Regions from separate parts of the Homo sapiens genome. Here region 2 is linked to region 1. Evidence: fine-mapped QTL for protein levels in blood plasma. Region 1 holds a variant in brackets. A gene starts in the other region. All regions are shown on their reverse strands.

What was found. A credible set is the group of variants that fine-mapping cannot tell apart. PIP is the chance, under the fine-mapping model, that this variant and not a neighbour inherited with it causes the effect. The UK Biobank Pharma Proteomics Project read protein levels with antibody pairs (Olink). The fine-mapping took linkage between variants from a reference panel, not from the people measured, so its PIPs are less certain.
Region 2: it holds the start of VAT1, and the variant in region 1 is the best candidate, but not a certain one, in a credible set for the plasma level of the VAT1 protein (UK Biobank, PIP 0.65).

Annotation. Positions count from the first base shown.
Region 1 is chr15:43,463,684-43,466,183 of GRCh38, reverse strand. The region is part of intron 11 of TP53BP1 (tumor protein p53 binding protein 1); the gene reads left to right. Among named protein-coding and RNA genes, the nearest start is that of TP53BP1, 28 kb to the left of the region's middle. The variant A/G (reference allele first, on the strand shown) is at 1,198.
Region 2 is chr17:43,020,986-43,024,001 of GRCh38, reverse strand. VAT1 (vesicle amine transport 1) reads left to right here and starts at 1,617. Exons shown (of 6, transcript NM_006373.4): 1 at 1,617-2,066. The coding sequence starts at 1,680.

The DNA of each region.
Region 1 (2,500 bases):
CCTTACCTGTCTGTGTTGGATACCTCTTGGGTTTCATATCTTCTTGCTTGGTTTACTCCCTCATTTTGGTGGGGGACATTGTTTAGTAGCCTTTATTCTGCTATCACACTTGATTTGTAGTTTGCAGGAGTATAGAATTCTAGATTGGAAATAATTTTCCTTTAAAGATTTTGAAGGCATTGCTCTTTTGTCTTCCAACTTCCAGTGCTGCTGTTAAGTGTGAGGGTCAGGTCAGCCATGGTGGCTCATGCCTGTAATCTTAGCACTTTGGGAGGCTAAGGTGGGAGGATCACTTGAAGCCAGGAGTTTGAGACCAGCCTGGGCAACATGGCCAGACCCTGTCTGTACCAAAACAAAACAAAACAACAACAACAACAACAACAAAAAACAAAACAGTGTGAAGGCAGTCTGATCTTGACTTTTAATAGGTGATCTGGTTTTTCTTTACTGGAATCCTGTAGGATTTTCTCTTCGTTCCCAGTGTTCTGAAATTTCCAGACCTTTGGGATACGTCTATTTTCATTCATTGTATTGGGTACTTGGCAGGCCCTCTCAATTTAGAAACTCAGGTCCTTCAGTTCAAAGAAATTTATTTCTTTAATTTCTTCCCCTTTGTTTTCTCTGTTCTTCTTCTTTTTTTAATGGACTATCTGTTGTTTGGATGTTGAAACTCCTAGAATAGTCTTCTAATTTTATTTTGCCTCCTACTTTTGATCATCTCTGTCTCTTTTAGTTCAACTTGCTGGGTGATTTCTTCAATCATTAAAAAAACAGTGGCTATATTGAGATGTAATTCACATACCATTCAGTTTACCCATTTAAAGTGCACAATCCAGTGGTTTTTAGTATATTCATAGAGTTGTGCAACCATCACCATGATCTAATTTCAGAATAGTTTCATCACCTCCTCAAAACCCATGCCCTTTAGCACTCACTCAACATTTCTTCTACCCTCGGCCCTTCGAGGGTAGTCTACTTTCTGTCTCTATAGATTTGTAGACACCAGTCTACAAATGGAAAGTAGACACCAGTCTACTTTCTGTCTCTATAGATTTGCCTATTCTGGACATTTCATATAAATGGAATTATAAAATATATAGCCTTTGTGAATGGCTTCTTTCATTTAGCATAATGTTTTCAGGATTCACCTGTGTTGTAGCATGTATCAGATTTTCATTCCTTTTTTTGTATTGATCT[A/G]TCCTTGTCTATAAAAAATATAAAGGAAAAAAGAATTTCATTCCTTTTTTATTTATTTATTTATTTATTTTTCTTTTTGAGATGGAGTTTCGTACTTGTTGCCCATGCTGGAGTGCAATGGCATGATCTTGGCTCACTGCAACCTTCGCCTCCCAGGTTCAAGCGATTCTCCTGCCTTAGCCTCCTGAGTAGCTGGGATTACAGGCATGCACCACCATGCCTGGCAAATTTTGTATTTTTTTTTTAGTAGAGACGGGGTTTCTCCATGTTGGTCAGGCTGGTCTTGAACTCCCGACCTCAGGTGATCCGCCTGTCTCGGCCTCCCAAAGTGCTGGGATTACAGGCATGAGCCACCACGCCTGGCCTTCATTCCTTTTTATTGCTGAATAATACAATTGTGTGGATATACCACAGTTACTCATGGATTCGTCAGTTGATGGACGTTTGGGTTGTTTCCCCTTTTGGCTATTGTGAATAATGCTGCTATGTACATTTATGGACAAGTTTGTGTGTGAACATGGTTTTATTTCTCTTATGTATACCTACAGGTGCCATTGCCCAGTTCAACCATCTTTTAATTCTTCTCTTAGTTATTAATTTCTACTCTTGGGTTTTTAATTTCTAAATTCTTTTTTCAGAATATATTTTTAAATACCATTTCTCTTGTTTTATTGATATACTATCTTATCTCTGTAACAGTATTAATAACAGTTTTCTTCTGTCTGGAATAGTCCTATTTCTTCCAGGTGGACTTTAGTTTTGTTTGTTTTGATCTCTTTCAAATTAGAGGCTTTCCTCAGATGTCTGGTAATCTTTGATTATTTGCTGATGTTCAAGAGTGAAATATCAGACAGATGATTAGTAGTTCTGAGTGGGTGGTTGGGTCTTATTGTTTTTGGGATTTGCTGTAATGTGATCCGCTGAGACATTTTATTGGGAGTCCCATAATGTCAGTATCTTGATTCATCTTGGCCTGGTCAGATCCCTTAGGAAAATGTCTGATCTCCTATTTGCAGGGTATTGGCCTGGCTGTACTAGAGGTCTATTAATGGAAGCGGGCTTTGGGTGGGAAGGGGGGTTGGGAGGCAGGTGCAGGTTTCATTCAATATGTAGATTTTCATTTAATCTCCGTATTTTCAGTATTGTACTTCCTGATAACTGTGCCTCTTGTCTGCCAGTCCTGGGACACTCTGTTTTACTCTCTCCAGGGCAGAGGAGGGGCAGGGTGAGATTATGGGTGTTGGAACTGTGGTGTAACTCTGGTGGTTTGTTGGCTTTCTCCACTGCTGGCTTAGGAATTCAG
Region 2 (3,016 bases), not on the chromosome of region 1:
TTTGGCCACTCTAGGCACGCTGCCTATGGGGTAGCCCTGCTCTGCAAAGAGCAGTAAAACATAAAGTTAGCCGGGCGTGGTGACACATGCCTGTGGTCCCAGCTATTCAGGAGGCTGAGGTGGGAGGATTGCTTGAAGCCGGGAGTTTGAGGCTGTAGGGAGCTGTGATCGCCCCACCTCGCTCAGCCTGGGTGACAGAGTGAGACCCTGTATCAAAAAAATAAAAATATAAATATAACTAGAGCACGCAGCATCATCACTATGTTACAGAAGGGAAAATGAGGAACAGAACGTTAACACCAAAGTCAGAAAGTTTTAAAGGCTTGGTCTCCATGCTTCTACTTTGCCACTGCAAGACCACAGTGAATTAAGTCTCATCCCTGCCTGGGTTAGATGTCAGAGCCTGAGACACAATGTAGTTGGACTCCAGTCCACAGGTGGCTGACTCCAAATCTGATATGAGTTAACTCCAAATCTGATGTAAGTTCAAGTTTTGGGACTGTTCCTTAACTTTTTTTTTTTTTTTTTGAGACGGAGTCTCGCTCTGTAGCCCAGGCTGGAGTGCAGTGGCGCGATCTCGACTCACTGCAAGCTCTGCCTCCTGGGTTCATGCCATTCTCCTGCCTCAGCCTCCCAGGTAGCTGGGACTACAGGCGCCTGCCACCACGCCTGGCTAATTTTTTGTATTTTTTAGTAGAGACGGGGTTTCACCGTGTTAGCCAGGTGAATCTCCTGACCTCGTAATCTGCCCGCCTCGGCCTCCCAAAGTGCTGGGATTACAGGCGTGAGACACCGCGCCCGGCCTTTTTTTTTTTCGAGATGGAGTCTCCCTCTGTAGCCCAGGCTGGAGTGCAGCGGCATGATCTTGGCTAACTGCAACCTCCGCCTCCTGGGTTCAAGCAATTCTCCAGCCTCCGCCTCCCTAGTAGCTGGGACTATAGGCACCTGCCACCATGCCTGGCTAATTTTTGTAGTTTTAGTAGAGCTGGGGTTTCACCATACTGGTCAGGCTGGTCTCGAATTCCTGACCTCAGGTGATCCACCCACCCGCCTCGGCCTCCCAAAGTGTTGGGATTACAGGCGTGAGCCACGCCGCCCGGCCCTTTTTTTTTTTTTTTTTAACAGGGTCTCACTCTGTTGCCCAGACTGGAGTGTAGTGGCGCGATCTCGGCTCACCTCCGCCTCCCAGGCTCAAGCGATTCCTCTGCCTCAGCCTCCCAAGTAGCTGAGATTACAGGCGCGCGCCACTACCGCCCGGCTAACTTTTTTATTTTTAGTAAAGACGGGGGTTTCACCATGTTGGCCAGGCTGGTCTTGAACTCCTGACCTCAAATGATCCACCAGCCTCGGCCTCCCAAAGTGCTGGGATTACAGGCGTGAGCCACCGCGCCAGGCCTATCCCTTAAAATAGTTTTTAATTTGAATAAGGTTTACTATGAATAAATAAATCACAGTCGGCTTGATCCCAAGAGCACAGACGTTCCTGGTGCCCCTTTTCGTGCTCTCCCAGCTTGCGCCACTATGGCCCTGGCCCTTTAAGGCTGAGCGCGAGGCCCCGCCTCGCCCGGCGCCCCGCCCCTCCCGCTGGATCCCGCAGCCGCGGCTCTTCCCGACGCGTTCCGCCTTCCCCAGCTGTGCACTCTCCATCCAGCTGTGCGCTCTCGTCGGGAGTCCCAGCCATGTCCGACGAGAGAGAGGTAGCCGAGGCAGCGACCGGGGAAGACGCCTCTTCGCCGCCTCCGAAAACCGAGGCAGCGAGCGACCCCCAGCATCCCGCGGCCTCCGAAGGGGCCGCCGCCGCCGCCGCCTCGCCGCCACTGCTGCGCTGCCTAGTGCTCACCGGCTTTGGAGGCTACGACAAGGTGAAGCTGCAGAGCCGGCCGGCAGCGCCCCCGGCCCCTGGGCCCGGCCAGCTGACGCTGCGTCTGCGGGCCTGCGGGCTCAACTTCGCAGACCTCATGGCTAGGCAGGGGCTGTACGACCGTCTCCCGCCTCTGCCTGTCACTCCGGGCATGGAGGGCGCGGGTGTTGTGATCGCAGTGGGCGAGGGAGTCAGCGACCGCAAGGTGAGCGGGTTGCGTAGGGCAGGGCAGGGCTGCGCAGGCCACTGGGCAGTGGGGCACGAGTGGGCGAGCGCCGGGGGTGTGGCAGGGCGGGAGAAACTGGCGCGGACCTGGGTGCACGAGCGTGGAAAGCGTAGCCAAGGAACTTGTGTTTGGGGGCTCCTGGAGAGCGGCATTTATGTGGGGAGGGGAGACGAAATTATCGCCCCTTCCCCAACCATTTTTAGTTGTGGCCGCCGCCCAGAAGCTGTGCTGGTGGGGGGGAAAACAATAAGGTGCCCATGCGCATGCGCACAACCACACTACCGTCCCCACCCCCCCCCCCCCCCCCCATTAAAACCACACCTGTACCCCTACCCACCAAACACTCTCTGGGTAATTGTGGTCTGTGACTATGAGTGACGGTTAGTGCCCCCTTTCCCCGAGGGAGCTTGAGGGGCTATGTCGTCGGGGTTGGGCGGGGGCACAGCGGCCGTGCCAGAGTCCTGGTCACATGCAGCCCCGTGGTCTGTGGGGGTGTGAGGCGGCCCCTCCCAAAGCAAGGCCAAAGAGACGAGACACGCCCATCACGGAGGAGAGAGAGCCTTTGCTACCCCACCGCCACCAGCCTTACACCGCCGATCTGATTTTGGGGTGGGGGAGGCGGGATTGGGTCATCCGATCTTTGTCTTGGGCTCTGTGTCTCCCGTGACTGCAGTATCTCCTCCTCCTGTGACTCAGCCCTCAGCCTTCGGGCCACGACCCGGGGCTGCCCTTGGGAATGCCTGGGGCGGGGAGTGGAAGGGGGGACCCACCTCTGCCTTCCTCCTGCAGAGGACCCCCACTTCAGAAACCCCAGTGCCAGGGGTTTGGACTGGAACGGAGAGGTGCGGCGCCTTGAACTGGTTGGCCAAGTCTGCAGGCCTGTTTCTCCTTCTCATTTATCATTAATCTTGGCCACAACCCTGGACACC